4 separate regions of the Homo sapiens genome follow, and regions 1, 2 and 3 are each linked to region 4. The links come from fine-mapping of genetic effects on gene expression. A gene starts in region 4. Each other region holds a variant in brackets. All regions are shown on one strand. Distances are between the middles of the regions.

Region 1 (8,103 bases), 160 kb after region 4:
AAAAAAAAAAAAACAGTTATAAAGATTAGTTCTTCACTACCACAAAAAGAATAGAACAGAGGTAGGGATCTAACTGATAGAGTCTCAAAATGTTACAAGAATTGTCACTGTAGTGAAATTATTAAATGTGGTTTTTTATCTTTAATTTTTAGTTTGAATGAATGCGTGTCAATTGTCCAAATTTCCACCAGTGAAGAATCAGCTAGCTCATCTTAGCTTATCCCACTTAGATTCCTAGATGGGGCCTAGAGGAGAGTTTTAACGTTAAGCCCGGTGTTTTGAAATACGTATCTGCTCCAGTGTCTTCTCCACAGGCTTCCAGTATTCGTTTCCCTAAGGCTGCCATACAAATAACCACAACCTGGGTAGCATTTAAAACAACAGAAATCAGGTCAGCCGAGGTGGCTCACGCCTGTAATCCTAGCACTTTGGGAGACCGAGGCCAGCCTGTCACCTGAGGTCAGGAGTTCGAGACTAGCCTGGCCAACATGGGGAAACCCCATCTCTACTAAAAATACAAAAATTAGCAAGACATGGTGGTGGGCGCCTGTAGTCTCAGCTACTTGGGAGGCTGAGGCAGGAGAATCACTTGAACCCAGGGGGCAGAGGCTACAGTGAGCCAAGTTTGCGCCACCTCACTCCAGCTTGGATGAAAAAGCAAAACTGTGTCTCAAAAAAACAAAAAACAACAGAAATCGGCCATGCACGGTGGCTCACTCCTGTTATCCCAGCACTTTGGGAGGCCAAGGCAGAAGGATGGCTTGAGCCCAGGAGTTTGAGACCAGCCTGGACAACACAGCAAGACCCACGTCTGTAAAAAAAAAAAAAAAAAAAAATTAGCTGGGCATGGTGGCACGTGCCTGTAGACCCAGCTACTCAGGAGGCTGAAGTGGGAGGATGGCTTGAGCCTGAGCCAGGGAGGTTGATGCTGCTGCAGGGAGCCGTGATTGAGCCACTGCATTTCAGCCTGGGTGACACAGTGAGGCCCTGTCTCAAAAAAACAAAAACACCGAAATTTATTCTCTCACAGCGGAGGCTAGAAGTCTGAAATTAAGGTGTCTGCAGAGCATGGTATCTCCAAAGGCTCTGGGAAAGAATCCTTTCTTCCCTCTTCCTGGCTTCTGGTGGTTGCCAGAAATCCTTGGTGTTCCTTGGCTTATAGATGCATCATTTCAATTGTTGCCTCCATCGTCACATGGTATTCTTTCTTCTATATGTCTTTTTTTTTTTATTTGAGATAGAGTCTTGCTCTGTCGCCCAGACGAGTGCAGTGGCGCAATCTCAGCTCACTGCAACCTCCACCTCCCAGGTTCAAGCAATTCTCCTGCCTCAGCCTCCTGAGTAGCTGGGATTACGGGTGTGCACCGCCACGCCCAGCTAATTTTTGTATTTTCAGTAGAGACGGGGGTTCGCCATACTGCTCAGGCTAGTCTCGAACTCCTGGCCTCAAGTGATCCACCCGCCTCAGCCTCCCAAAGTGCTGGGATTACAGGAGTGAGCCACTGCACCCGGCCTTCTCTATGTGTCTCTGTCTGTAGGCAAATTCTCCTCTTCTTATAGGGGCACCAGCCATTAGATTAGGGCACCACTTAATCCAGTATGATCCCATCTTAACCTGATTACATCTGCAAATATCCTATTTCCAAATGAGGCCACCTTCACAGGTTCCCCGTTATACATGAATTTTTTTTTCTTTTCTTCCTTTTTTTTTTTTTTTTTGAGACGGAGTCTCACTCTGTCATCCAGACTGGAGTGCCGTGGCGCAGTCTCGTCTCACTACAACCTCTGCCTCCTGGGTTCAGGCATTTATCCTGCCTCAGCCTCCCGAGTAGCTGGGATTACAGGGCCTGCCACCACGCCCGGATAATTTTTTTGTATTTTTAGTAGAGACAGGGTTTCACCATGTTGGCCAGGCTGGTCTCTAACACCTGACCTCAAGTGATTTGCCCTCCTCTGCCTCCCAAAGTCCTGAGATTACAGGCGTAAGCCACCACACCTGCCCTATGTTTTCCTTTTTGCAACCAGAATTCCATTTTTAAAAGTTTTCTTTTTATGTGAAAATGAATTCTGATTCTTAAAACTGTTCTACCAAGAATCTGATATGAGCGTTCATTGAGACATTTCTACTGCTACAACCTTTAGGTGACCTGTTGATTAGCAGTTTGTTTCCATAGAAGTAGTCCCTTTTACAACTTCACTGTGAGTTCCTTAAAATACTTCTGCTTTTACTTTCAAACCTGTGAGTGTTTAAGATTAAAGGCCTTTTGGTAAAAAGTAAAAACCTAATAGATTTTGAGACTTCCTCGGAAGCTCTGCTAATGATTGCATGGACAAGGAGATATAAATGAGCCTAAGGCATGTAACATTTTATTTTATGCAACCCTCATGACTCCTGTGACAGACACATGAGGCAGTGAGCCTCTTAACTTGTGGAAGTTAAGAATGCTATGCAGAGGCTTTTTAAGGAAATGAAATTTGGAAAACATGAGAAATCTTGGGATGGGAATGAGGGAAAGGGCTGAGTGACACAAGGCTGAAAAACATCTGTGACACTAGACCTGAAATATTTGTCCAGGAAAGTGAGAAACTAGTTCGAGATTTCTGAAGTGGAAAATCTGGCAAATGTTTCTATATTGGGTTTCTAGTGACTTCGAGAAAGAAAGGGAGACGTGGAATGAATACATCGGAAAATTCTAATAGAAAAGATCTAGTTGATTCAATGTTCAAAGGAGAGATCTAACTTTCAGTAGAACATAAAGCTCCAAGAGAAGGGACCCTGCGTATCTCACTTATTGTATTCTCACTGCCTATTTTGGTACCTGGTATTCAGTATATACTTAGTAAAATTTTCTTTTCTTCTTTTAAGATATGGGGTCTTGCTCTGTCACCCAGGCTGGAGTGCAGGGCTGCGATCTTGGCTCACCATAACCTCCACCTCCCGAGTAGCTGGGATTACAGGTGCACACCACTACACCTGGCTAATCTTTGTATTTTTAGTAGAGACAGGGTTTCACCGTGTTGGTCAGGCTAGTCTCAAACTCCTGACCTCAGGCGATTTGCCTGCCTCTGCCTCCCAAAGTGCTGGGATTACAGGCATGAGCCACAGCGCCCGACCCATTTCTTTTTTTCTAAAAAGACTCTCTTGCTATGTTGCCCAGGCTGGAGTGCAATGGTGCAATCATGACTCCCTGCAGCCTTCAACTTCCAGGCTGAAGCAGTCCTCCCGCCTCAGCCTCCTGAGTAGCTGGGACCACAGTCACACACCACCAAACCAGACTAATCTTTTGATTCTTTGTGGAGACAATGTCTCACTATCTTGCACAGGCTGCACTCAAACACCTGGACTCAAATGAGCCTCCCTACTCAGTCCCTTGAAGTGCTGAGATTACAGATGTGATCCGCTGGACCTGGCCTGAAATGAGATTCTTGAAAACAGCATATTGTTGTCCGGGCACGGTGGCTCATGCCTGTAATCTCAGCACTTTGGGAGGCCGAGGCGGGTGGATCACCTGAGGTCAGGAGTTGAGACCAGCCTAGCCAACATGGCGAAATCCCATCTCTACTAAAAATACAAAAATTAGCCAGGCATGGTAATGCATGCCTGTAATCTCAGCTGCTGGGGGGCTGAGGCAGGAGGATCCCTTGAACCTGGGAGGCGGAGGTTGCAATGAGCCGAGATAGTGCCACTGCACTCCAGCCTGGGCAACACAGCAAGGCTCCATCTCAAAAAAAAAAATAGAAAAAGAAAAAGAAA[A/G]AAGAAAACATATTGTTGTGTCATATTTTTAATCCATTGTCAATGTCTGCTTTTTTAACTTTAATTAATTAATTAATTAATTTTTTTGAGACAGAGTTTCGCTCTTGTTGCCCAGGCTGGAGTGCAATGGTGCAATCTCGGCTCACCGCAACCTCTGCCTCCCGGGTTCAAGGGATTCTCCTGCCTCAGTCCCCAAGTAGCTTGGATTACAGGCATGAGCCACCACGCCCAGCTAATTTTATATTTTTAGTAGAGACAGGGTTTCACCATGTTGGTCAGGCTGGTCTCGAACTCCCGATCTCAGGTGATCCACCCACCTAGGCCTCCCAAAGTGCTGGGATTACAGGTGTGAGCCACTGTCCTTGGCCTATTTTTGTATTTTTTGAGATTGAGTCTCGTTCTGTCACCCAGGTTGGAGTGTGGTGGCACCATCCCAGCACACCGCAACCCCTGCCTCCTGGGTTCAAGGGATTCTCCTGCCTCAGCCTCCTGAGTAGCTGGGATTACAGTCGCCCACCACCACACCCAGCTAATTTTTTTGTATTTTTAGTAGAGATGGGGTTTCACCATGTTGGCCAGGCTGGTCTCAAACTCTTGACCTCAAGTAATCCACCTGCCTTGGCCTCCCATAGTGCTGGGATTACAGGTATGAGCCACCGTGCCCGGCCAAAGTCTGCTTTTTAATTGGTGCACTTTGTTTACATTTAATGTAATTATTGATACCTTAAGGCTTAAAGGCGAGGTGTGGTAGCTCATGCCTGTAACCCCAGCACTTTGAGAGGCTGAGGCAGAAGGATCGCTTGAGCCCAAGAGTTTGAGACCAGTCTGAGCAACATAGCAAGACCTCATCTCTACAAAAAAAAAAAATTTTTTTTAACTAGCCAGGAGTGGTGGCATGTGCACCTGTAGTCCCAACTACTTGGGAAGTTGAGGTGGGAGGATTACTTGAGCCCAGGAGTCCGAAGCTGTAGTGAGCTACGATCATGCCACTGCTCTCTTGCAGCAAGACTCCATTGCTAAAAAAATAAGTATGTAAATAAATAAAAGGTTTAAGTCTGCTGTTTTATTTTTTGTTTTCTGCTTGTTCCTCTTGTTGTCTCTGTGTTTGATTTTTTCTGGCTTACTGTGGGCTACTTGTACCTTTTTTTTTTAAATCCCATTTTAATTTTCCTATAGTGTTTTTGAGTGCATCTCTTTTTTTTTTTTTTTTTTTGAGACGGAGTCTCGCTCTGTCGCCCAGGCTGGAGTGCAGTGGCGCGATCTCAGCTCACTGCAAGCTCCGCCTCCCAGGTTCACGCCATTCTCCTGCCTCAGCCTCCGGAGTAGCTGGGACTACAGGTGCCCGCCACCACGCCCGGCTAATTTTTTTGTATTTTTAGTAGAGACGAGGTTTCACCGTGTTAGCCAGGATGGTCTCAATCTCCTGACCTCATGATCCGCCCGCCTCGGCCTCCCAAAGTGCTGGGATTACAGGCGTGAGCCACCGCGCCTGGCCCGAGTGTATCTCTTTGTGTAGATTTTTTAAGTGGTTGTAATGGGTTTCATATTATACATATATAAATTATCACAGTCAACTGATGTCAATATTTTTTCTTTTTTCTTTCTTTTTTTTTTTTTTTTTTAAGACGGAGTCTCTCTCTATCGCCCAGACTGGAGTGCAGTGGCGCAATCTTGGCTCACTGCAACCTCTGCTTCCCAGATTCAAGCGATTCTCCTGCCTCAGTCTCCTGAGTAGCTGGGATTGCAGGCATGTGCCACCATGCCCGGCTAACTTTTGTATTTTTAGTAGAGACAGGGTTTCACCATATTGACCAGGCTGGTCTTGAACTCCTGAACTCAGGTGATCCACCTGCCTCGGCCTCCCAAAGTGCTGGGATTACAGGCGTGAGCCACTGTGCCTGGCCAACTGATGTCAATATTTTTATCAGCTTGAGTGAAGTATAAAACTCTTACCTCCATTTTAGTCTTTTTACTTTCCCATTTACAACATAATTGTCTTAAATATTTCCTCAACATACTTTGCAAACCACATTGGACAATGTTACACAGTCTGCTTCAACCATCAAACATAATTGAGAAAACTCAAGAGGAGAAGTGTTTTTTTTGTTGTTGTTGTTTTGTTTTTTTTTTATTGATCATTCTTGGGTGTTTCTTGCAGAGGGGGATTTGGCAGGGTCATAGGACAATAGTGGAGGGAAGGTCAGCAGATAAACAAGTGAACAAAGGTCTCTGGTTTTCCTAGGCAGAGGACCCTGCGGCCTTCCGCAGTGTTTGTGTCCCTGGGTACTTGAGATTAGGGAGTGGTGATGACTCTTAATGAGCATGCTGCCTTCAAGCATCTGTTTAACAAAAACATCTTGCACCGCCCTTAATCCATTTAACCCTGAGTGGACACAGCACATGTTTCAGAGAGCACAGGGTTGGGGGTAAGGTCATAGATCAACAGGATCCCAAGGCAGAAGAATTTTTCTTAGTACAGAACAAAATGAAAAGTCTCCCATGTCTACTTTTTTCTACACAGACACAGCAACCATCCGATTTCTCAATCTTTTCCCCACCTTTCCCCCTTTTCTATTCCACAAAACCGCCATTGTCATCATGGCCCGTTCTCAATGAGCTGTTGGGTACACCTCCCAGACGGGGTGGTGGCCGGGCAGAGGGACTCCTCACTTCCCAGTAGGGGCGGCTGGGCAGAGGTGCCCCCCACCTCCCGGATGGGGCGGCTGGCCGGGTGGGGTCTGACCCCCCACCTCCCTCCCGGACGGGGTGGCTGGCCGGGCGGGGGCTGACCCCCCACCTCCCTCCCAGACGGGATGGCTGCCGGGCGGAGACGCTCCTCACTTCCCAGACGGGGTGGCTGCCGGGTGGAGGGGGCTCCTCACTTCTCAGAGGGGGCGGCTGCCGGGCGGAGGGGCTCCTCACTTCTCAGACGGGGCGGCTGGGCAGAGACGCTCCTCACCTCCCAGACGGGGTCACGGCCGGGCAGAGGCGCTCCTCACATCCCAGACGGGGCGGCGGGGCAGAGGTGCTCCCCACATCTCAGACGATGGGCAGCCGGGCAGAGACGCTCCTCACTTCCTAGATGGGATGGCGGCCAGGAAGAGGTGCTCCTCACTTCCTAGATGGGATGGCGGCCGGGCAGAGAAGCTCCTCACTTTCCAGACTGGGCAGCCAGGCAGAGGGGCTCCTCACATCCCAGACAATGGGCAGCCAGGCAGAGACGCTCCTCACTTCCCAGACGGGTTGGCGGCCGGGCAGAGGCTGCAATCTCGGCACTTTGGGAGGCCAAGGCAGGCGGCTGGGAGGTGGAGGTTGTAGCGAGCCGAGATCACGCCACTGCACTCCAGCCAGGGCACCATTGAGCACTGAGTGAACGAGACTCCGTCTGCAATCCCGGCTCCTCGGGAGGCCGAGGCTGGCGGATCACTCTCGGTTAGGAGCTGGAGACCAGCCCAGCCAACACAGCGAAACCCCGTCTCCACCAAAAAAATACGAAAACCTGTCAGGCGTGGCGGCGCGCGCCTGCAATCCCAGGCACTCGGCAGGCTGAGGCAGGAGAATCAGGCAGGGAGGTTGCAGTGAGCCGAGATGGCAGCAGTACAGTCCAGCTTCGGCTCGGCCTCAGAGGGAGACCGTGGAAAGAGAGGGAGAGGGAGACTGTGGGGAGAGGGAGAGGGAGAGTGAGACCGTGGGTAGAGGGAGAGGGAGAGGGAGAGGGAGGAGAAGTGTTATAGACTGAATTGTGTCTTCCCAAATTCCTATGTTGAATCCCTAACCTCTATTGTGACTGTACATTGGAGACAGGGCCTTTAAAGATGTAATTAAGATTAAATGAGGGCCGGGCACGGTGGCTCACTCCTGTAATCCCAGCACTTTGGGAAGCCACGATGGGCAGATCATTTGAGGTCAGGAGTTTGAGACCAGCCTGACCAACATGGCAAAACTCTGTCTCCACTAAAAACACAAAAAAATTAGCCAGGAGTGGTGGCACACACCTGTAATCCCAGCTACTCGGGAAGGTGAGGCAGGAGAATTGCTTGAACCCGGGACACAGAGGTTGCTGTGAGCCGAGATTACGCCATTGCACTCCAGCCTGGGCAACAAGAGTGAAACTCCGTCTCAAAAAAAAAAAAAGAAAAGAAGAAAAAAAGGACACCAGCCGGGCTTGGTGGCTCACACCTGTAATCTCAGCACTTTGGGAGGCCGAGGTGGGAGGATCACTTGAGGTCAGGAGTTTGAGACCAGCTTGGCCAACATGTTGAAACCCCCGTCTCTACTAAAAAAAAAAAAAAGAAAATTATCTGGGTGTGGTGGCACATGCCTGTAATCTCAGCTACTCGGGAGGCTAA
Region 2 (8,103 bases), 60 kb after region 4:
TTTACAAGCAGGTGTGGGTTCCCACGTGGGCACAGAGTGGCCCCCTGGGCAGATTCCCCTGGGTATGCCTCTGTGCCACAGGAGCGATTATAGTGACCGCAGTTTGCTGCAGAGGCTGTGAAAGTAAAGGCGTTGGGAGGTGGGAGATGATTGTATATGTGCTGGTTTCGTCCAGGGTTCCTAGCTCATAACTCACATGACCATGGTTACAGTCTTACGTTGTCATGTTGGGGTGCCTCAGGCCTCAAAAAACAGCCTTTCGTCTCTCTGACCTTCTCCTGTCCTCTTTTCAGCTGCCCAAGGCAGGACTCTAATCTGATTGTGGGTTGTAGGATCCTCATTCCAGAGTGGGTCCTTGCCCCATACCCTGGAGAAAGGAATGCTGCACAAAGGCCCAAAGAATCTGGACTGGCCTTGCTGGGCTTAGATCAGACCCTTTTTGCCCAATCACATTATCACAGTTGTCCATGCTTCAGTCATGGACAGCCAATGGAGTTCTCCATAAAAGGCCCAAAGGACAGGGTTCGGGAGCTTCTGAGGGCTGAACGTGTGGAGGCTGACAGAATGTGCCCAGAGGGTGACGTAACCCCAACTCTATGGAGATAGAAGCTCCTGCTCTGGACCCTTCCAGACCGCCCTGTCTGTATCTCTTCATATGGCTGTTTATTTCTATCCTTTAAAATATGCTTTGAGGCTGGGCACGGTGGCTCATGCCTGTAATCCCAGCACTTTGGGAGGCCCAGGAAAGGGGATTGTTGGAGCCCAGGAGTTCAAGACCAGGCCAGGTAACAGAGTGAGACCCGGTCTCTGCAAAAAATATTAAAAAGCTTCCCAAGTAGCCGGGACTACAGGTGTGTGCCATCACTGCCACCATACCCAGCTAATTTTTTGACTTTTTTGTAGAGACGGGGTCTCACTTTGTTTCCCAGGCTTTTTTTTATTTTTGAGACAAAGTATTGCTTAGGTTGGAGTGCAGTGTCTTAATCTTGGCTCACTGCATCCTGCATCTGCCTGGTTCAGGCGATTCTCCTGCATCAGCCTCCCGAGTAGCTGGGATTACAGGCACCCGCCACCACGCCCAGCTAATTTTTAGTATTTTTAGTAGAGACGGAGTTTCACCATGTTGGCCAGGCTGGTCTCAAACCCCTGATGTCAAGCGATCTGCCCACCTCAGCCTCCCAAAGTGCTCGGATTATAAAAAAGTGCCACCCCACCTGGCCCTGTCATTTTTAGAAGATTATTTTATTTTGAGACGGAGTTTCGCGCTTCTTGCCCAGGCTGGAGTGCTGTGGCACGATTCTGGCTCACTGCAACCTCCACCTCCCGGGTTCAAGCAGTTCTCCTGTCTCAGCCTCCCAAGTAGTTGGGATTACAGACACGTCCCACCACATCCGGCTAATTTTTGTATTTTTAGTAGAGATGGGGTTTCTCCCTGTTGGTGAGGATGGTCTTGAACTCCCAACCTAAGGGGATCAGCCAGCCTCCACCTCCCAAAGTGCTGGTATTACAGGCGTGAGCCACTGTGCCCATCCTAAAAGATCATTTTAACTGCTCTGGGGTAATTTCACTGCTGATGGGCAGGAGTGGAATCAAGAAAACTAGTTAGGAGGCTACTGCTGTAATTGAAGGGAGAGATGACAGTGTGCAGTCTGGAATAGGGTGATTTGGGGATATGCTTTGATGAGCAAAGGTAGAGCTGTCAGTATTTGCTGCTGAATTGGTTGAAAGGTGAGAGAGACTGGAGTCAAGGACTACTCCAGGGTTTTTAAAACCAGTATTGGGAAAAATGGAGTTGTCATATAGTAAAGTAGAGAAGACTGGGGGAGGAGCCGGTAGGAGGACTGGAAATGTGGAATTGGGGTTTAGACACATTAAGTTCATTGTATCAGGTGGACGTGTTGTATTGAGTAGGCAGTTGGAGATACAGACCTGGAGTCTGTGGGAGACAGTGGGGTTTCTTTGGTGGGGGGGTCATCGGCATCTAAGTGCTATTCGAAGTCATGGGACTGCAGAAGATTATATTAACAATGTGAATATTCACAAGCTTGAAAAAATGAATGTACGGAAGAGAGGGGGTCACACTTTACCTCTTATTATCCCACCCCCAGGGGTGACCTTGTGAGCCACACCACACAGGTACACACATGCACGCATATGTACACACACTGTCACAGAGGGGCAAAGGGGGTTGGCGAGAGCGGGACTGAGAGCAGATCCCAGGCCTCAGAAACCCATGCCACCTGGGCCCCCTCCCTGTGGCCTTCCTGGATGCTGTAGGGATAGCAGATCTGTCTGGGTCAGCAGGGCAAGGCGACTGGCAGGAGGGGGTGGCTGGGAGGCCTCTTCCTCCAAGAGCAGGGGCAGCACATCATCCAACAGGCAGAGAAGACCCTCATCCAGAGGTAGGGGCAGGTCAGGGTGGAGTGCCTGCCTCCTTCCCCTAGTGCCCCACACAAAGCTCCAAGAGCTCCAGCAGGCTCCTGTCTGTTTCCACTTCCCAGGCTTTCTGTGGTCATGTCCCTGCCCACTCCAAAGGGCCATCCCCCTCAGCCTTCCCTCCCTCTCAGACCCAGCTGAATCCCTGCCTCGGTACCGCCCCCTCCTGGGGCACTCCTGCCCCCTTCCTCTGCTGCATCCTCACCTAGCCTCCTATCTGTTCACACCTCCCCTGCACCAGACCTCCACAGAAGTTCAGACAGTGGCTCTACAACCCTACTGGCCCCTATCAATGACTTCTGCCCCCCTGGGACCCTCCACTGGGCTCAGGAAAGATGGGCCATTGTAGCAAAGTAGCCAGTCCTGTAGCCCCAGCTGGACCTCCTGGTGAGGCAGCTTCCCAGATGGTGGGGATCGCTCAGTCCTCTGGGGCAGAACAGGGTGAGTGGGGCTGTCTCCCTTTGATTCACTTAGCCCTCTTTCTTCTTTACACATTTGCAAAATGTGACAGTAGTCATATTACTATTCATTCTAATAACAGTCCTTGCTGGGTATTAAACCTCTATACTAGCACTTTCAGGCATTATCTCCACCATTACTAAAACCGATTAGATAGGTATTATTATACCCATTTTACAGATAAGAAAGACTCAGAGGGCCGGATGGGGTGGGTCATGCCTGTAATCCCAGCACTCTGAGAGGCCAGGGCGGGCGGATCACCTGAGGTCGGGAGTCCAAGACCAGTCTGACCAACATGGAGAAACCTCGTCTCTACTAAAAATACAAAATTAGCTGGGCGTGGTGGCACATGCCTGCAATCCTAGCTACACTTGAACCCGGGAGGCAGAGGTTGTGGTGAACTGAGACCGCGCTATTGCACTCCAGGCTGGGCAACAAGAGTGAAACTCCGTCTCAAAACAAAAGAAAAACAAAAAAGAAAAGAAAAGGGAAAGGAAAGGAAAGCACTCAGAGAAAGCAAGGAACTTGCCTGAGGTCTCATGGCTAATGGAGTGCAGGTCACAACCTGACTCTACCCCAACCCAAGTCCCACCTAACTCGTCCTGCAGATGCCCCTTGGGTATCCAGTGACTGTGTCTGGGCTTTACTGTGGACTTGAGGCATGATCCTGGGCTGGCTTCTTTCTGGACCTTGGTTTCTGGGTTGTTGGGTTGGTTGGTTGATTAGATTAATTAATTGACAGTGTCTCACTCT[A/G]TCGCCCAAGCTGGAGAGCAGTAGCTCGATCATGCCCACTGCAGCCTCCAACTCCTGAGCTCAAGGAATGGTGCCACTGTGCTAATTTTTTTATTTTAGAGATGGGGTGTCTCACTATGTTGCTCAGGCTGGTCTGGAACTCCTGGCCTGGAGCGATCCTCCTGCCTCGGCCTTCCAAAGCTCTGGGATTATAGGCGACAGCCATCGCGCCTAGCCGCGCAGATATAACGGGCTAACGTGATCTGTCTTAATTAGCCATCCACAGCCGTCACCGCCGTCCCATCCCCAGGGACCGCACAGGCCCAGGAGACAAAGGAGGGCGCGGGAGACAGTGGCTGACGGAGCCTTTCTTGCGGGGCGGCCAGAGGATCGCTGAGCTCAGGGTCTCCCATCCCACCGGCCCCGCCCCCGGCCTCGGCCCCAGCCCCGGCCCCAGCCTCGGCCTCTGCGGGATCGTCGGCGAACACGTCCCGGTGCATGGCGGCGGCGTAGTCGAAGCCAAAGGGGTCGTCCAGGCGCATCAGCAGCTGGTGCAGGAAGCGCCTGGTTGTGAAGTAGCGCAGGGTCGGCTTCGGGGCGCGCATAGCGGTGAGGAAGACCTGCGGCGGCGGGAGAGGAGCTCTGGCCCGGGCTGCGCGCAGGACGACGCACCGCCCCCGCTCCCGGAGTCCCGCCCCCCGCTCACCTTCACCACCTCCTCAGGGTGCTGCGCCTCCTCGCGGTAGATCTCCTTGCTGTGGTGGAGGTATTAGTGCAAGAGGCGGAAGGTCCGGGTGTTCGTGCGGTCCATCACCTGGTCGGGACCGCCCAACACCTTCTGCATGAAGGCGGTGTCCACAGGGCCGCACTCGATCAGGCTCACGCTGCTGGCCCGAGAGCCGCAAGTGGGCAGGGACGGAGGCGACCCAGGCGCCAAGTCCCATCTCCTGCCCCAGCACCGGCCCCGACCCCGGCCCTGGCCACGACCCAGAACAGCACCGCTGCGTCCCGAAGGTGGAAAGAGCGCTGGGGATAACCAGAACATTTGAATAGCGGGTTATTGCTCGACAGCCCTCCCAAACCCATCTGAGGCTGCCAGGTAGCCCTGGTGTCAGAATTCGAACCTGGCGGGATCCCCGGCCGCTGCATGACCTTGGGCCAGTCACCTAACCTCTCTTGGCTGGAGCTTCCCCATAACAATACCAACACTTCAGCAGCCAGGTCAGCAAGTGGCACAATGCGTGCCAATGCTCCAGCCTAAGTGCCTGGCACGCAGCAAATGTAAGCCGGGCAGAGACCAGAGCGGCTTCCGCAGGACAGGGTGCTCGGCATCTCTAGGTCAGAGTTAAGAGGGTTGAGGAGACGGGGGTGTTGACTCACTGGACCCCAAAGGGCAGCAGCAGAACCGCCAGACTCTCGCATAAGCCTTCGAGCGCGAACTTGCTGGCGCAATAAACGTCATTGAAAGGCAGCCCTTGGGTGGGAAGATGAGGTTCCTGAGGCGCAGCGGCCAGGGGGTCATCCCCCGGCAGGCAGTGCCCCTCCAAGCTGATTGCACCCCACCCCCTAAGGAGCCTGCCTTCAAGGCTCAGCTCTGCACACAAAGAATCTGGAGCTCCGGGCCCGGTCCCTGCCACTCACCCATCAATCCTCCCATGCTCCCAGTCACCAACACGCGTCCCGAACCCGGCCGCTTCATGTCTGGCAGGAAGTCCTGCAGCACCCGCACAGTACCTACTACATTCACATCCAGTACAGAGGCCACAGCGTCCTCCCCCAGCGGCCCCAGCAGGCCCAGGCCTGTGTCACACACTGCGGGGACAGAGGCCCAACCAGCCCGCCTCAGCATCACCCTCAGCACGGCCTGTCCCCTCATGCTCCAGGGGCCTGGGGACATGTTGGTTTCAACGCAGGGCGGAGAAGGCTCCTAGGAGCCCATATGCTTCCAGGAGGCTCACCCAGCACATCCACACGGCCCTCGGTCACGCGTTCCCGGGCAGCGGCCAGGGAGCTTGAGTTCCTTACATCCAGCTGCAACCTCTCCAGGGATCCCTGAGGGCATGCCAGGGCCCGGGCCGCCTCCCACAGCCGGCCCTGTGTTTTCAGGTCCCTCAACGTGGCATACACTGGAGGTTTTGGGAGAGGAGGAAGATCTGACTTCTCTTCTGGCCTCCAAGGGCTTTTCCCTTCTCTCCCTCCCTGTCCCTACCTATCTATACCTTTGAAGCTCTGGGATGGGTCCAAAGCCAGATGTATTGCCAAGTGCAGGCCAATACCTGAGGAACAGCCGGTGATGAGCACCACGGTGCAGGCCATGGTGAGACTGTGGGGAGAGGCTGGGGCTCTGGGCTGGATATCACCTGCTTCGCCCCGCCCCGCCTGCGGGCCCCCACCCCTTGTTGTGTCTCCCACGCAATCTCAAGGATAAGCCCTCCTGCGGGTCCCTGGCCCGCTCTCCCCACCCTGTTCTGAGCCAAAACAGACATGAGCCCACTGCTTGGAACAACAAACTGTCCTCGTTTCTGGTCAGAGGGAGGGGAGGCTTTACAAGCAGATGTGGGTTCCCACGTGGGCACAGAGTGGCCCCCTGGGCAGATTCCCCTGGGTATGCCTCTGTGCCACAGGAGCGATTATAGTGACCGCAGTTTGCTGCAGAGGCTGTGAAAGTAAAGGTGTTGGGAGGTGGGAGATGATTGTATATGTGTTGGTTTCGTCCAGGGTTCCTAGCTCATAACTCACATGACCATGGTTACAGTCTTTCGTTGTCATGTTGGGGCGCCTCAGGCCTCAAAAAACAGCCTTTCCTCTCTTTGACCTTCTCCTGTCCTCTTTTCAGCTGCCCAAGGCAGGATTCTAATCTGATTGTGGGTTGTAGGATCCTCATTCCAGAGTGGGTCCTTGCCCCATACCCTGGAGAAAGGAATGCTGCACAAAGGCCCAAAGAATCTGGACTGGCCTTGCTGGGCTTAGATCAGACCCTTTTTGCCCAATCACATTATCACAGTTGTCCATGCTTCAGTCATGGACAGCCAATGGAGTTCTCCATAAAAGGCCCAAAGGACAGGGTTCGGGAAGCTTCTGAGAGCTGAACGTGTGGAGGCTGACAGAAGGTGAAGAACTCATCCATGTGCCTGGAGGGTGATGTAACCCCAACTCTATGGAGATAGAAGCTCCTGCTCTGGGCCCTTCCAGACCGCCCTGTCTGTATCTCTTCATATGGCTGTTTATTTCTATCCTTTAAAATATCCTTTGAGGTTGGGCACGGTGGCTGATGCCTGTAATCCCAGCACTTTGGGAGGCCAAGGCAAGGGGATTGCTGGAGCTCAGGAGTTCAAGACCAGCCAGGGCAACAGAATGAGACCCCGTCTTTGCAAAAACTACAAAAAAATTAGCTGGGTGTGGTGGTGTATGCTTAGAGTCCCAGCCACTTGCGGGGTGGGGCGCTGAGGCGTGGGGTTTGGGGGGATGGAGGCTGTAGTGAGCCGAGATCATGCCACTGCACTCCAGCCTGGGTGACGGAGCCAGATCCTGCCACTGCAGTCATTCTGGATGACAGAGTGAGACCCTGTCTCAAAAAAGAAAGAAAAAAATTTTTTTCCTCTGTAATAAAGCAATAAACATAATAAGGGTTTCCCTGTGTTTCGTGGGTCACTGTCGCAAATGAGTTGACTCCAAAGAGGGGAAGGGGGTCATGGGAACTCCAACTTGAAGCCAGTTAGTCAGAAGTTCCAGGGATCAGGACTTGTAACCGTTGGGAAGGAGGGGGTGGTCTCATGGATCTGCACCCTAACCCTGTGGGATCTGATGCTGTCTCTGGTTGATTACATTGGAACTGAATTGGAGGACACCCAGCTGATGTCTGCTGCTTGGTGTGTGTGGGGAAAATCCTCCAAATATTTGGTCACAGAAGTCTTCTGTGTTGGTGACTGTTGCTGTGGCATGCCAGCAAAGGACAAACATGGTTTGAAAAGAGGTTTTCCTGCAACAGAAGGGCATTCTACGTTCAAAGGTCAGGGTAACATTAGTGTTAAAAAGAGAGACGTGGCCGGGCACGGTGGCTCACTCCTGTAATCCCAGCACTTTGGAAGGCCGAGGCAGGTGGATCACTTGAGTTCAGGAGTTAAAGACCAGCCTGGCCAACATGGTGAAACCTTATCTCTATGAAAAATACAAAAATTAGCCGGGCGTGATGGCACAGGCCCGTAGTCCTAACTCCCTGGTAGACTGAGGCAGGAGAATTGCTTGAACCCGGGAGGCAGAGGTTGCAGTAAACCAATATGGTGCCACTAAACTCCAACCTGGGCGACAGAGCAAGACTCCATCTTGGAAAAAAAAAAATTAGCCTGGCGTGGTGGTGCATGCCTATAGTCCCAGCTACCGGGGAGGCTGAGGCACAAGAATTGCTTGAACCCAGGAGGCGGAGGTTGCAGTGAGCCGAGACTGTGCCATTGTACTCAAGCCTGGGCAACAGACCAA
Region 3 (8,103 bases), 840 kb before region 4:
CGTGTCTCCTCTTGTCATTGATAAGATGAACTTAGAATGAGCTTGAAATGCTATGGTGGTGGTGCTCTATTCTGGACTGCAGAAAAATCTGGAATGCCGTTCTCAGATGGGGCAGTTGCCAGGTGGAGGGTCTCCTCACTTCTCAGACGGGGCGGCCGGGCAGAGACGCTCCTCACCTCCCAGACGGGGTCGCGGCCGGGCCGAAGCGCTCCTCACATCCCAGACGGGGCGGCGGGGCAGAGGCGCTCCCCACATCTCAGACGATGGGTGGCCGGGCAGAGACGCTCCTCACTTCCTAGATGGGATGGTGGCCGGGAAGAGGCCGTAACTGATTTTTTTTAAGCAAACTTTTTATCTGTATGTGTTTTCAGATATCTTGGCTGGTGGGCCTGTAAGACACTGGGACAGAGTTGCCATAGCCTCCTTAAGGATTTTGGGATGGCCCCAGAAAGAACAGAATAAACTTGGCGAATCACCTAGGTTCAACATAAAGAATTGGGAATGTGGACCATGGCACACACTCAGGGCTGGTTACAGAATTTTCAGGGGCCAGTATAAAATGTATGAATCCAGCCAGGCATGGTGGCTCATGCCTGTAATCCCAGCACTTTGAGAGGCCGAGGTGGGTGGATCACTTGAGGTCAGGAGTTTGAGACCAGCCCAGCCAACATGGTGAAACCCCGTCTCTACTAAAAATACAAAAATTAGCCAGGCGTGGTGGCAGGTGCCTGTAATCCCAGCTACTTGGGAAGCTGAGGCTGGAGAATCGCTTGAACCCAGGAGGCAGAGGTTGCAGTGAGCTGAGATCGCGCCATTGCGCTCCAGCCTGGGCGACAAGAGCAAAACTCTGCCTCAAAAAAAAAAAAGGATGACTCCTTGTTTCTAAATTATTAAGACGTTTAAATGGTGACAGCAGAGCATTAAATCAAGCAGGGGGTCCTTCTAAACATGGGGCCCTGCTTAACTGCACAGGTCACACATCAATGGTGCTGGCCTTGCACACACACAGTGGCCAGTCACTCAGAAAGGGGCAGTTTTGCCACAAGACATCCCAGTCCTGCAAAGCCGAGAAAAACCCACAGCTGCTGCTAGGTTTCCTTCCACAAGCACACCTGGGAACCTAATTCTTCACAGAGCCATTTTCCACATGCACCACCACTCTGGTTATGAGTTCAGAAGAGAAACCAAAGCAATAAAATAAACATAAATCAAAGCCAACTGTGTTAATAAAATGGATCCAAAGGGTCAGTGTGGCAGGCAGGACATTAGATTTCAGACAGCTTTAGTATCTTCCCGGACAAATTACATGAACTGCTGTCAGAGGTACCCTCAAAGTTCATGCAAAATATGCCTCCTGGCTCATTTAACTCCCATTTCTCCGCCAGTAAATTATTAACGGAACAAGCTCGAACTGGCAGAGCTGTTGTCTCAACATAGGCCTGATGTCCACACAGAAAATTGCTCAATAATTTGTACTGGAAGTGACCCAGCACTAAATTCATTCCCTGAGCACTGGCACCAGGGCACCAGACTGCAGGGGGAAAGAATCCCCAAGACAGCATCCTGCTTCTGTTTGGAGTAGAGTGTAAAGTCCCCATCGAGGGGCCGAAGGTGACCCTGCAGCCTCAGAGCAGCAGCCCATAACCCAAGTGTCGGTGACTTCATAAGGCCAAGGACACAAGAGGGGCCCATAGAAGCCTCTGGCAGGTGAGAAGGAGAGACAGGGAAAAGAAAGAAAAAGACTTGATGAGAGGACAGCGCAGGATGAAGAGAGGAGGGGATGGAACAAGAAAGAGGAAAACTTCTCTCTTTGGGGAGGAATATATGGTTTGGGGCAAAATATAGGTTCTAAAGAGCAGCTTCCACCACTTCAATGCACCCATCTCAGCTTCTGGAAGTCTTTCCAGGCCTTGAGGTTCAGCTCCAATGACACCTCCTCCAGGAGGTGGAGGGTAGCTTCCCCTGATGGCCACAGAACAACGTTGCTACCCAAATAAATGATAATACAGTAGATAAGAGTGGAGAGTTTCCCTTTGCCACCTACACCCTCTCATTTCGTACCCCCAGCCCTTCCATGGGCATTATTACTGCCCTAATTTTGCTAATGAAGAAACCGAGGTACTGAGAGATTTAGTAACTTGCCCAAGGACATACAGGTGGTAAGTGCTGCAGCTGGGACCAGACAAACTGACTCCAAAGTCCTTACTTGTAACCACTTGGCTCTACATTTCCCTCTTCTACCTTATTGTGGCTCAGAGGATCGCCTGAGCCCAAGAGCTCAAGACCAGCCTGGACAACATAGTGAGACCCCGTCTCTACAAAAATTTCTGCCTGTAGTATAGACAGTAGTGTCCAAACTTCACCCCTCCTCCAGGAAACCTCTCTTGAGGATAGGGACTCTATCTTACTTATATCCCTATTCCTCCAGCAATCCACTACAACGTCCAGCACATAGTAGGTGCTCAGTAAATGTTAATTCCATACCTTTCTCTCATCAGACACATGTACAAAAAGTATTGTGTCCAAAACACAGACTAAGAGAAAATATTTACGAATCATATGTGCAACACAGGATTTGTATCCAGAATTTATAATGGGCCAGGCGCGGTGGCTCATGCCTGTAATCCCAGCACTTTGAGAGGTCGAGGAGAGTGGATCACCTGAGGTCAGGAGTTTGAGACCAGCCTGGCCAACATGGCAAAACTCCATCTCTACTAAAAATATAAAAATTAACTGGGCGTGGTGGCGGGTGCCTGTAATCCCAGCTACTCAAGAGGCTGAGGCAGGAGAATCACTTGAATCTGGGAGGCGGAGATTGCAGTGAGCCAAGATTACACCATTGTACTCCAGCCTGGGCAACAAGAGCAGAACTCTGTCTCAAAAACAAAACAAAACAAAAACAAACAAACAAAAACCAGAATTTATAATGAACTCTCATACCTAAATAAGAAAACAGATTACTGACTTTAAAAATGAGCAAAAGATGTAAACAAATACTTCACCAAAGAGAATATTAAGATGGCAGATAGGCACATGAAAAGATGTTCAACAGCCAGGCGAGGTGGCTCATGCCTGTAATGGGTCACTTTCAATACAATTACTGAGACAAGAAGATTGCTTGAGGCCAGGAGTTCGCCCAGCCTGGGCAATATGCAAGACCTCATCTCTACAAAAAAATAAAAATAATTTTTTAAAAAAGAAATAATCATCATGTACAGTCACTCAAACCTGAAATCCCAACACTTTGGGAGGCCAAGGCAGGAGGATTGCTTGACCCCGGGAGTTGGAGACCAGCCTGGGCAACATAGTGAGACCTTGTCTCTACCAAATTTTTTTTTAATTAGTTGGGCATGGTGGCACACATCTGTGGTCCCAACTACTCAGGGGGTTGAGGTGGGAGGATCACTTGAGCCTGGGAGGTCAAGGCTGCAGGGAGCCATAATTGTACCACTGCACTCCAGCCTGGGAGGCAGGGCGAGACTGTCTCAAACAAACAAACAAAAAAGAAGTATCAATCTGAATCCCATAAATATGTACAATCATTACATGTAAACTAAAAATAAAAGTATAAATAATCACCAAATGGGAGAAAAACAATGCTTGGCATATAGTAGGCATTCAATAAATATTTGTAGAATTAATAGTCCCAGTGAAGCAGCCAGTCATTCATTCTATTGCAAAATAGCTCAAATGAAAAGAAATTTATGAAATTTTTTTTTACTAATGTTAAGCTGAAATCACACCTATATAAAAAGATTTATGGGTCGGTTTCGGTGGCTCATGCCTGTAATCCCAGCACTTTGGGAGGCCAAGGCAGGCAGATCACTTGAGGTCAGGAGTTCAAGATCAGTCTGGCCAATATGGCAAAACCCTGTCTCTAATAAAAATATAAAAAGTAGCCGGGTGTGGTGGTACACATCTGTAATCCCAGCTACTTGGGGGGCTGAGGCAGGAGAATTGCTTGAACTCAGCAGGCAGAGGTTGCAGTGAGCCGAGATTGCACCACTGTACTCCAGCCTAGGCGACAGAGCAAGACTCCGTCTCAGAAAAAAAAAAAAGTATCCAAGACCAAGAAAATGAAAATATACATTCACACAAAAACTTGTACAAGAATGTTTATAGCCGCATTATTCACAATAGCCAAAAAGTGCAAACAACCCAAATGTCCATCAGCTGATGAATAGATAAATGAAATGTGGTATATCCATACAATGGAATATTATTCATCAATAAAAAGGAATGTAGTACTAATACATGCTACAACACAGATAAACCCTGAAAACAGCATGCTAAGTGAAATAAGCTTGACATAAAAGGCCACAGATTGTGTGATTTCATTTATGTGACATATCAAGAGTAGGCAAAGCCATAGAGGGAGAGAGTCTCTATGGCTCGTATTTGCCAGGGGGTGGGCGGAAGGGGAAATGGGGAGAAGCTACTGTGGATTCGGGGTATTTTGGGGAGACGAGATAAAAATGTTCTGGAATTACTGGTGATGGTGGCACAACTTTACAAATATACTAAAAACACGAAATTTTACATTTTTTTTCTTGTAAATCTAGGTCTGAACAGATAATTGTATAATTTGGTAACTTGTTTTCCTCTCTTTTTTAGAGACAAGGTCTTTCTCTGTCACCCTAGCCAGAGTGTAGTGACGTGATCATAGCTCACTGTAACCCCAAACTCTTGGGCTCAAGCAATCCTCCTGTCTCAGCCTCCTGAGCAGCTAGGATTAAAGGCACTTGCCACCATCCCCAGCTAATTTTATTTATTTATTTATTTATTTATTTATTTATTTATTTATT[T/C]ATTCATTCATTCATTTATTGGTAGAGACAGGGTCTCGCTGCATTGCCCAGGCTGGTCTCAAACTCCTGGCCTCAAGTGAGCCTCCGCCTAGGCATCCCAAAACCCTGGGATTGTTTTTTTTGAGACAGAGCTTCACTCTTCTTGCCTAGGCTGAAGTGCAATGGCGAGATCTTGGCTCACCGCAACCTCCACCTCCCGGGTTCAAGCAATTATCCTGCCTCAGCCTCCTGAGCAGCTGGGATTACAGGCATGCGCCACCATGCCCGGCTAATTTTGTATTTTTAGTAGAGATGGGGTTTCACCATGTTGGTCAGGCTGGTCTGGAAATCCTGACCTCAGGTGATCTGCCCGCCTCGGCCTCCCAAAGTACTGGGGATTACAGGTGTGAGCCACCACACCCAGCCTTTTTTTTTTTTTTTGAGACAGAGTCTTGCTCTGTCACCCAGGCTGGAGAGCAGTGGCACAATCTTGGCTCACTGCAACCTCCGCCTCCTGGGTTCAAGCGATTCTCTCGCCTCAGGCTCCCGAGTAGCTGGGATTACAAGCACACACCACCATGCCCGGCTAGTTTTTGTATTTTTAGTAGAGATGATGTTTCACCATATTGGACAGTCTGGTCTTGAACACCTGACCTCAGGTGATCTACCCACCTCGGCCTCCCAAAGTGTTGAGATCATAGGCGTGAGCCACCGTGCCTGGCCTCAAAACCCTGGGATTACAGGTGGGAACCACTGCATATGGCTGAGTTGTACACTTTAAAAAAAATTTTTTTTTAAATATGGAACACTTCACAAATTACAGTGTCATCTTTGAGCAAGGGTCATGCTAATTTTCTTTGTATCATTCCAATTTTAGTATATGTGCTGCTGAAGTGAGCATTGAATTGTATAATTTAAAAGGGTAAATTTTGTGGTATACTATACTAGTTTTATGGTATACCATAAAATTGTGGGTATACTTTATAAAAATAAAATTATGGTATGTAAAATGTTACGGTATACCATAAAATTATGGTATACTTTATGGTATACCATTAAATTGTACTCAGGCAGTATGAAAAACTCAGTATAAAAAAATTCATAGACCTGTACACCAACAGAAAAAATTTTACTGCATAATTTAAAAAATAAAAAAAAAATTAAGTCCTGTGTCCGAAAGGCAGGAGCCAGGTTCTCACCTGTTGTGTGTCACCTAAGTTGCCTCATACAATAAATGCTGAGGACAGTGGTTCCCGGACGTGGGTACATGTCCAGGAACCACCTGGTTGGGGGAGGTCTTTGAAAACTTCTGATGCCTGGCAACCGCCCCCAGGCATTCAGATTTAATTGGTCTGAGGTACAACCTGGGTACTGAGATGTTTTTTTAAAGCTTCCCAGGTGATTCTAACATGCAGCAAAATTTGAGAACCACGGGCTTAGCAAAAGGTTGATGAACAACCATTCTTGGGAGCCAAAAGCTAATCCCCGCCCCACCTTACCTCACTTTCACCTCAAGGCAATCAGATCAGATCTGTCCTTGGCAAAGAGAACAGCTACAGCCAATCCTGCTGTTCACCATGCCGGACAGAAGTAAATCAGAGCATTCTCTCCAGTTCCTTAAGGGCCACTGCTCTCTCTATAAACATGTGGTTGATGAGATCAGCAATTCTGAAGCAGGATCCATTCTACAAAGCATGGTTTCTTCCGTTCTCCCCAGGTTTTCTCTCTCTTGCTGTCCCCATTTGTAGCTGGGGTTGGGAAGTGGAGGAGAGAGAAAGTCACTGAATAAATACATTCTCTGTGTTCTCAATGAACAGACATGAAAGAAAAGAAAAATGGTAAATACATTCCTAGTAGGGTGAGCCTCAGTAGGTTTCTGGATTACCCTTCCCAGAAACATTCATATTTTCAAAGAAGACCTCCTGGTAAACGAAGACATGAGTCACTAGTAAGGAAGGTTTTGAGGGACAGGGTCTCTTTCCTTTAACTTCCCAGACACATGTCTGGACTGGTCCTGATTGTTTGACCTGTCTGTTTTCTTAGAACAGAGCATGAGATCCTAGCTAGCTGCATTCCATTCACTTAACAATTTGTTGTTCGAATTTATTTATTTCAGTTACGATTAGGTTTTGTCTGTGGCATTTATCGTCTTTCTATGCCAAGCAGTCTCACACTAACTTGAAAGCCCTTTTGTATTATCTACTGTGTTTCCTACAGGTGAGTCTTTTCACCTTGTCTTAGTAATTAAGACTTCTGGTTGTAGATTACAAAAACCATCTCAAGCAAGTTTAGGCAACAATGGGAGTTCTCAATGAGATTACAGGTGGAACCAGGAAAGTTAAGCCTCAGGGAGAGCAGGAATCCAGGCATACGTGGTCTTTATCAGGGAGTAGACACCAGGGCCCCACCCCAGTCAATGGGGAAGTCAGATCTCAGAGAATAATAATCATTGAACATGAATTGAATGTCTGCTATGTGCAGGAACATATATTATTGATAACATATTCTTATGTTATCAGTATGAGTTATATTACTATTGCTCTTCCCATTTTATAAATGAGGAAACTGAGGTCCACAGAAGATAAGCAATATGTTCAAGAGCTTCCAGGCCAGGTCCGGTGGCTCACACCTGTAATCCCAGCACTTTGGGAGGCCGAGGCAGGAGGATCACCTGAGCCTCAGAGTTTTGAGTCCAGCCTGGGCAACATAGGGAGACCTTATCTCTACAAAAAATTTAAAAAGTAACCAGGTGTGGTGGTGGTGCCTGTGGTCCCAGCTATTCAAGAGGCTGAGGTAGGAGAATCACTTGAGCCCGGGAGGTAGAGTCTGCAGTGAGCTGTGACTGTGCCACTGGACTGCAGCCTGGGTGGTGGAGAAAGACTCGGTCTCAAAAAAAAAAAAAGAAGTAGGGGGTGGGGGGCAGTTCCAGTTGGCACTGGAACTCAGGCAGTATGGTTTCAGAATTGACACACTTAGCCACCAGGTGAATGGTTCCCTTAAGAGTTGTACAGTGGGCAACCTGCACACCCATACCTGGCAGCCCTGACTATGGACTAGATCAGTGTTTCTCATCAGAGACACTGAGGACATTTGGAGCTAGATAATTTTTTGTGTAGGACTATCCCATCCTTCATTTACTATATGTGAGTGGTAATAACGCTCCCAATCATTGTGACAATCAAAAGCCAATCATTGTGACAATCAAAAGTATCAACCTCTTGAAACTTAAAAAAAAAAGAAAATGAAAAAAAAAAATTTAAGTATCAACCTCAGTTGAGAATCACTAGGATAAGTAGATAGCCCCAAATGATGTCTACAT
Region 4 (8,085 bases):
TAGGCTCCAGTTCCCACTACTGGGAGTGTGATGGGGTTCTCAGTCATTGTAACTTCATTTTCCTCTCTATAGGAGGGAATATAAGAACTCTTTCCTGTTCCAGCAAATATGGAGTTATATCTGCTGGGTCCCCTAGTCATTTAGGAAGCCAAGTTGGAGACCTTTCCTAATCCCCAAACACAAACTTACCTGTCATTCAGCCGTTCTAAGAGGTAGGAACCCAGTCCAGAGCCTGTCCCCCCAGCAATGGAGTGACACAGCACAAAGCCCTGCATGGGGAAGGGGCAGTCAGTGTACAGGTATCTAGTGGCAGGATGTCAAACTAGACCCATCTCATAGTTTTTTAGGACTCCCATTTTCCCGAGCCCTTGCTTCCCATCCAGTCCCCTCACTTATACAGCTTAGGCAACTGCCTTGTTTCTGGCAAGGCCTGATAGCTTCTGTCCAGTGCAAAGGGTACATGAGTGGGTCTTGTTCCTAACAGGTCGCTTCTAGAGGGTGCTGCCAAGCCTTGCCCATGTCGGCTCCTACCAGCATTCCTGGGACACTTACCTCTAGACTGTCACTACCATCTGCCTCCCGGTCTATGATGTCAAAAATGTCCTCATGGATCTTTTCTCCCTGTACAGACATAGGGGAGGGTCAGAGTGGGACAGAACCATGGGAGGTCTCTGACCTCAGAAAAGCCACCCTCAATTCTCCTTATAACACCCAGAAGTCCTTTTATGGAGCATAGCTACCTGCTTTTATCTACATTGAGAGGCAGTACGGTGCAGTGGTTACAAGAAAGCACTCTACACCCAGACTACCTGGGTTCATACATTAGCTCTATTTTTTTTTGCGATGGAGTCTCTCTCTTTCTCCCAGGCTGGAGTGCAGTGGCGCGATCTTGGCTCATGGCAACCTCCGTCTCCTGGGTTCAAGCGATTCTCCTGCCTCAGCCTCCCCAGTAGCTGGGATTATAGGCGCATGCCACCATGCCCAGCTATTTTTTGTATTTTTAGTAGAATCAGAGTTTCACCATGTTGGCTAGGCTGGTCTTGAACTCCTGACCTCAGGTGATCTGCCTGCCTTGGCCTCCCAAAGTGCTAGGATTACAGGCGTGAGCCACCACGCCTGGCCCATTAACTCTACTTCTATGTAGCTCTGGGCAGCTTATTTAATTGCTCTATGCCTCAGTTTCCTCATCTGTACAATGAAGGTAATAATACAGGTCCATATACCCTTATCTAACAGTGTTGGGGCCAGTTATGTTTTGGAATTCAAAATATTTCAGATTTTAGAAAGGTATTATGGTATATATACTATATATTAAATAAAATTCCAGTGGGAATTTTTATTTAATCAGAAGCACGTTAATCAAATATATTAGTATTTCTGTAATAAAAGGCATCACTAATGACAGTAAGTTGGATAGAAACTATAGGGCCGGGCATGGCGGTTCACGCCTGCAATCCCAGCACTTTGGGAGGCCGAGGCAGGTGGATCACGAGGTCAGGAGATCAAGACCACCCTGGCTAACACAGTAAAACCCCGTCTCTACTAAAAATACAAAAATTAGCCAGGCGTGATGGCAAGCACCTGTAATCCCAGCTACTCGGGAGGCTGAGGCAGGAGAATCGCTTGAACCCGGGCAGCAGAGGTTGCAGTGAGCTGAGAGCGTGCCACTGCACTCCAGCCTGGGCGACAGAGTGAGACTCCGTCTCAAAAAAAATAAATAAATAAAAATTAAAAAAAAGAAACTATAAAACAGCCTGTCTTCATTGAAATTTGTTTTTGCTGATAAACTAGTTATGAAATGTCCTTTGGTTTCATGGCTTTCTGGATCCTGGAAAGGCAGATAAGGGACTGTGGACCTGTAGTACTTACTTCTAGGGTTGTTGGGAGATTTAGAAAAATTAATATATGTAAAGCACTTAGAATGACCTGGCACACTGCATTAGCTAGTGTAGGCGCTTGACAATATTACATAGTCCACTCCCTGCAGCCAGGTCTCTCCCTCCAGCATTCATACATCCCTGATCCGGTTTTCCCTCTCTTCGGGACGTCATAGAGCCTGTCCCTACCCAGCGAGTTGTGGGCCCTGCCAGGGAATAGGAAACGACCTGGGAGAATCCGCTGGCCCAGTTGTTGCCAGCTCCTCCTCCATGTTCCGACAGGTAGATGTTCTCTGGGTTGTAGAGCTTGGCATAGGGGGAGTTGAGGATGGAGTGGATCACCCGGGGTTCCAAGTCCAGCAGCACGGCCCGGGGGATGTAGTGCTCATCGTCTGCCTGTCAAGGGGAGTCCAGGAGGGGGCCCAATCAGCTAGGGCGGCCCAAGTCCGAAGTCCTCCCAACTCTGGCTCCCTCCGGCCCTCCCTCCTCAAGCCAGCCGCCTGGCCCTACTGCCCAGCGGGGTTCCCAGTACCAGGCCACTCCCTTCCCTTCCGCCCCCTTGGGCAACTGCCGCCCCCGGCCAAGTCGCTGGGGGCACCTGGTAGAAAAAGACGTCCTTGCGGTCAGTGCCCTCGGTGGCGAACTCCTCCACGATGCCCTCGGGGCTGATACCATGCTCGGCGCACAGCTGTTTCCAGAACTCGAACCCAACTGGGGGGAAGGGGCGGGCAGGGGAGAAAGAAGATATCTAGGTCCGGGCAGGTTCCAATCAGGAGCCGGGGGACTGGGCGCCTGCGTCCAGGGATAAGAAGTCAAGCCGCAGGACTCTCCCGTGTCTGAGGAAAGGACTGTACGCCAGGGACTGGGCAGGGGAGGGCCCCTCGGGGTTGGGCAAGTGGACACTGGGTCAGGGATGTCTCGCCTTTCAGAGAACTACGATTCTGGCAAGGACAGATGGAGTCCAGGATCCCACAGCGAGATCCCATTGACCCTAAGGAACCTGGCTAGCTGAGGGGCCGGAGTTTCGCTCACTCTGATTGCCGCACTGGCCCAACTGTAGGGTGATGATTTCCCTCGGCATCGCTCCTCAGGCACCGGCGTTGCAGCCGCTCCCGCCCGCAACGGCGCCGCACGCCAGCCCGCTCGCCGCAAGACGCAGGCGCCAAACAACCAGCTCCACCCACGAACTTCCTCCGCTCCAATGAGAATCGAGTTCTGGCAATGAATGGCACGTCTTTAAGCACTGGCCTTCGTTCATGCAGATTGCGCGTGCGCGGCTCCGGATGCGGCTCGGCGCCTCCGGATCCGGCTCCGCGCCTCAGTGAGGGCGGGGTACGGCGTCCTCCCTCCCCTCTGGGTGGGCGCCTGCTTGGGCCTGCGCGCAAGCGCGCTGTGGTGCGAAGCCACCTCCCCCGCCGAATCGCGCATCTGCGCAGTTGCTGTTATTGTGACTTGTCGGGCCACGGCCCCGGATGTTGTGGCTGCCGCGGGGAGATGGCTGAGGCCGAAGGGGTTCCCACGACCCCAGGCCCGGCTTCGGGGTCGACTTTCAGGGGCCGCCGAGATGTGTCAGGCTCCTGGGAGCGGGACCAGCAGGTTGAGGCGGCGCAGCGGGCCCTGGTGGAGGTGCTGGGGCCTTACGAGCCTCTGCTGAGTCGGGTGCAGGCAGCCCTGGTGTGGGAGCGGCCAGCTAGGAGCGCTCTGTGGTGCCTGGGGCTGAACGCGGCTTTCTGGTGAGAGAACTGGACCCTCGGAAACCCTCCGAGTCCCGAATTCGTTGGTTCCTCTAGGGCTCTACTTCTCGCCTGCCCTGTTTTCTTCGCTGCACTGGCTCCTTCCTGTACTTGCCTAATTTTGCCTCACCTCCTTCCACTCCATCCCGCCTGCAGGCTTCGGCACCCTAGTTCTTCCCAGGGCCGTCCACCCATCTTCTCTGCCTTACCTGTGCCCGCACCCCCGCCCCGCACATCTGGCGGGAGCTTCTGGTAACATCTTGAGCCGCTCAAGAGTGAGCGAGGGCTCCTCTTTTGAGCCCGACAAAGCTGCGTCCCTTTAAAGCCATCACTTCCTTTCTCTTGTCTGCTCAAGTGCAAGTTCTAGATTGTTTCCAGAGGTTTTAGTAGTTTATTGTTGGAGTAGAGGCGTGAAGTCTTGCAAAGGTATCCATAGGTGTGATTATAAAACAAGCTTGAGCGATTCGCATGAATTAGCATGTTATATATCTAGGAAGGAAGTTTATGAAGTCTAAGCGTCAGTGTGAGCCCCCAAAGCTGAAAATTGAAAGAAAATTACAAGCTTTTAAAGAACAGTTAGGAAATGATGACGGAGATTACACGCGTGTCAAAGCCACCTGTGATTGTAACTCCTCCCTGTTCCAAGGAATTAGAGAGGCATCCTTAGCCATGGTTTATAGGCAAGGAAATTGATGTCTAATACTGTGTGTGAGTTTTCCTGAGCTGGAAAAGTAGCACTGTAAATATGCTTTATTTGTGTGTGTCATGCTCTGTGAAAATGGAACTGCTGCTTCTCTCAGTTGTCATCACCTGAAGTGGACCTAGGACTTCATAGGATCTACCAACCATAATTTTGGATTTATTTGTAATGGAGGAGGTTCCAAGGGAACTGACTTATAGGGGGCTTTCTGCTGCTGAATGGATTAAGACTATTCTGGATAAGCCTGAAACAACAAAATATGTGTGTTTTTTAATTGTGTTTTTGCTAAAAATAGCTTTCCCCTTAAAATTTGTTTTAAAATCAAAACATTTATTATCCTTTATCTGAAAGATTTTCAGTGAGCTGAAGCAGAACAAATAATTCCAAGTTCATTGACCCGAAAACAGTGTTCAGCTATTAAGCTAATCCTCTCCCAGTTTGAAAGAGACCCAGTTAAAGGTGTCACAGTAGTCTCTGGCATTTGTGGCTTCCAGAGCCTTTAGCAAACTCGATGGTAAACTTTTCCTACCACGTTCTTCATTTATTTTTGGTAGTGCTTTTTCCCTTTTTTTTTTTTTTAAGACAGAGTTTCACTCTTATTGCCCAGGCTGGAGTGCAATGGCGTGATCTCGGCTCACTGCAACCTCCGCCTCCCAGATTCAAGCATTTCTCCTGCCTCAGCCCCCCAAGTAGCTGGGATTACAGGCATGAACCACCACAACCGGCTAATTTTGTATTTTTTTAGTAGAGATGGGGTTTCTCCATGTTGGTCAGGCTGGTCTCGAACTCCCGAGGTCAGGTGATCTGCCTGCCTCGGCCTCCCAAAGTGCTGGGATTACAGGCGTGAGCCACTGCGCCTGGCCTTTTTTTTTTTTTTTTTTTTTTTGAGACAAGGTCTTGCTCTATCACCCAGGCTGGAGTGCAGTGGTATGATCTCGGCTCATTGCAACTTCCACTTCCTGGGCTCAAGCAATCTTCCCACCTCAGCCTCCACAATAGCTGGGACCAGAGGTGCACATCATCATGCTTGGCTAATTTTTTAAATTTTTTGTGGAGACAGGGTCTCACTATATTGCCCAGGCTGGTCTCGAACTCCTAGGCTCTGGTGATCCTCCTGCCTTGGGCTCCCAGAGTGCTGGGATTATAGGCATGAGCCACCGTGCCCAGCCAAGTGCTTCTTCCTTGACCCCTAGGTACTGATTCCCATTGCTCTCTGTAGAAATCTTCACTATAGCACCTCACTGAAGAGTGTTTTATCCAGTCAAAACATTTCCCACAGTGGTTTTGGTATCTCTAGCAAGAAGGCTGGGCCTCATTAAACCAATTTGTATCAAAGTATGACTGCCTGATGGAAAAAAACACTTTATCAGGGTTTACTTATTTTTGTTTTGAGACAGTTTGGCTCTTGTTGCCCAGGCTGGAGTGCAATGGCACGATCTCAGCTCACTACAACCTCCTCCTCCCAGGTTCAAGCGATTCTCCTGCCTCAGCCTCCCGAGCAGCTGGGATTACAGGCATGCGCCACCAATGCCTGGCTAATTTTTGTATTTTTTTGTAGAGACAGTTTTGCCAGGTTGCCCAGGCTCGTCTCAAACTCCTGACCTCAAAGCAATCCACCTGTCTCAGCCTCCCGATGTGCTGGGATTACAGGTGTGAGCCACTGCACTGTACCGGGCCTTAAATGGATTTTTAAACCAAAGATTTATGAATGCAAATGAATTAGTAGCATGTATGCTGTTCTTTTTGAGGAGGGGACCTTTTTTTTTTAATTAATTTTTGTTTTTTGAGATGGAGTCTCGCTCTGTCGCCCAGGCTGGAGTGCAGTGGCGCCATCTCGGCCCACTGCAAGCTCTGCCTCCCGGGTTCACGCCATTCTCCTGACTCAGTCTCCCGAGTAGCTAGGATTGCAGGCACGCGCCACCACGCCCGGCTAATTTTTTGTATTTTTTTTTAGTAGAGACGGGATTTCACCGTGTTAGCCAGGATGGTCTCAATCTCCTGACCTCGTGATCTGCGAGGAGGGGACCTTTCTTCTGCCGCTTGTCTGAGAGAGGTTTCTGAAGCAGAATGTGAGGTTGAGGTCTGCACATAAAGAGCTGCTGTGACTGGGACATATCTTTAGATGTTACAGCTAGCTTTAATTTGCTGGCCTCTACCAGTGTTTACTTAAGCTTATTAACATGCTATGTTTAGAGGCTCACTTAGAACCCCTTTTGTACTCTGGGTCTCTTAAAGCATTGCTGTGATTGGTCTTTATCTTTGGCATTTCCTAGTAGCTTGTCTGTTGTGTATCCAGAACACAGTTACTCTTGTTACAGTCCCATCACATTTTAAGAAGGTGCAGGAGAGAGACAACAAAATGAGGATGTGACTTTTTTTTTTTTTTTTTTTTTTTGAGATGGAGTCTCGCTCTGTCACCCAGGCTGGGGTGCAATGGCGTGATCTTGGCTCACTGCAACTTCCACCTCCTAAGTTCAAGCGATTCTCCCACCCCAGCCTCCCGAGTAGCTGGGATTACAGGCACCCACCATCACGTCTGGCTAATTTTTGTATTTTTGTAGGGCAGAGTTTCACCATGTTGGCCAGGCTGGTCTTGAACTCCTGACCTCAGGTGATCCACCCACCTCGGTCTCCCAAAGTGCTGGGATTACAGGTGTGAGCCACTGTCCCTGGCCGACAATGTGACTCTTGAGACTAAAAGAACAGTTGGGTATGCCATTTCTGGAGAGGACTCCTACATGTGAAAGGCACAGATACTGTTAAGTCCCCAGAAACTTGGATAGTCTGGCATTGGAGTTCACAGAATTGTTTGGGGAAATGAGCTTCCTTGGTAGGTAATTAGAGATTTAAAATGAAATTTGGGCTTCACATTCTAGTAGTGTCATATTGAGTATGAGTGTTGACATTTCGCTTAGAAATGTGGAAGAGTGACTGACTGTTCAGTTAACAAACATTTTAAATGTTTAAGAAAGGGAGGAGGATCATTAGCTCAAGTCAGAAAAATCAAATCTGAAATATTTAGTTTCTCTTTTATTGTATTGAATAATGGGACAAAAATGACATATCATTAACTGAGATTTTTATGCATTTTGAGGTATTAGGAGATAGGAGTACAAAAAAAAACCCATCAGAATTCAGGTAGGTAGCTCTTAATTTTCAGTGTTTTGTATCCTCAGTCATATTTTGCCGTAACTGTGAATATGCCCTCTTACATCTTAAAAAAAAAAAAAAAAGATGGAGATAGATGTAGATACCTTGTCACCATAGTATTCCAAGGTTTTCATACTTTTTTTTTTTTCAGGTACCAGAGAATTTATGGTGGCCATATCAGAGGTCTTCCAGCCTAGATTACTTCTGGTCACTGATCTGTTATTGTCTCTAGCATAATAATAGAAATGTCAGGCCGTTCCTTCCAATAGCTTGTGTTTTCATTAGTCTCAACCTCATCTGTGAATGAGTGATTTGGGGGAAGAATGTGAGAGTCAACAAGCATGTATCCTGACAGGATCAGAAAAGAACAGGTTTGGGTAACTTTTTGGTTTGACTTGTACTCTGAGATCAGAGGAGGGTAAATGAACACTGGAAATGTGTGAACTCCAAGCTCCCTCTCCCACCTAACATGAAGAGATAGTTCAAGGAGGCCTACATAACTGCTGAGCTCTTTCAGTTTTTTTTTTTTTTTTTTTTTTTTGCTGGGGAATCGGGGGTTGTTGGGCTGGACAGGGTCTCCCTCTGTTGCCCAGGCTGGAGTGCAGTGGCACAATCATAGCTCACT

Direction of the effects. Positions count from the first base shown, and alleles are read on the strand shown. Sizes are in standard deviations (SD) of each study's normalised expression. Not every link is listed here.
With allele C in place of T in region 3, the expression in monocytes of the gene that starts at base 3,322 in region 4 is lower (large effect, 0.77 SD a copy in CEDAR).

Evidence for each region.
Region 1: its variant is fine-mapped to the expression of RETREG3 in blood mononuclear cells (TOPMed, PIP above 0.99).
Region 2: its variant is fine-mapped to the expression of RETREG3 in whole blood (TOPMed, PIP above 0.99).
Region 3: its variant is fine-mapped to the expression of RETREG3 in monocytes (CEDAR, PIP 0.95).

What each region holds. Positions count from the first base shown.
Region 1 is chr17:42,447,809-42,455,911 of GRCh38, reverse strand. It overlaps LOC102725238 (a long non-coding RNA gene), which reads right to left. Exons shown (of 4, transcript XR_007065758.1): 4 at 5,655-7,411. Among named protein-coding and RNA genes, the nearest start is that of ATP6V0A1, 7.0 kb to the left of the region's middle. The variant A/G (reference allele first, on the strand shown) is at 3,755.
Region 2 is chr17:42,544,604-42,552,706 of GRCh38, reverse strand. It overlaps HSD17B1-AS1 (HSD17B1 antisense RNA 1), which reads left to right. Exons shown (of 1, transcript NR_144402.1): 1 at 1-271. It also overlaps the pseudogene HSD17B1P1. Among named protein-coding and RNA genes, the nearest start is that of HSD17B1, 4.3 kb to the left of the region's middle. RefSeq lists a cis regulatory region at 310-326, enhancers at 3,632-3,691, 3,722-3,801 and a silencer at 4,192-4,441. The variant A/G (reference allele first, on the strand shown) is at 3,649.
Region 3 is chr17:43,443,089-43,451,191 of GRCh38, reverse strand. MIR2117HG (MIR2117 host gene) reads right to left here and starts at 6,485. Exons shown (of 2, transcript NR_146952.1): 1 at 6,284-6,485; 2 at 1-295. It overlaps MIR2117 (microRNA 2117), which reads right to left and starts at 6,386; the gene lies at 6,307-6,386. It also overlaps the pseudogene RNU6-406P. The variant T/C (reference allele first, on the strand shown) is at 4,806.
Region 4 is chr17:42,604,611-42,612,695 of GRCh38, reverse strand. It overlaps RETREG3 (reticulophagy regulator family member 3), which reads left to right and starts at 3,322. Exons shown (of 9, transcript NM_178126.4): 1 at 3,322-3,610. The coding sequence starts at 3,372. TUBG1 (tubulin gamma 1) reads right to left here and starts at 3,013. Exons shown (of 11, transcript NM_001070.5): 1 at 2,910-3,013; 2 at 2,476-2,588; 3 at 2,106-2,273; 4 at 553-621; 5 at 190-269. The coding sequence starts at 2,958. RefSeq lists an enhancer at 3,331-3,440.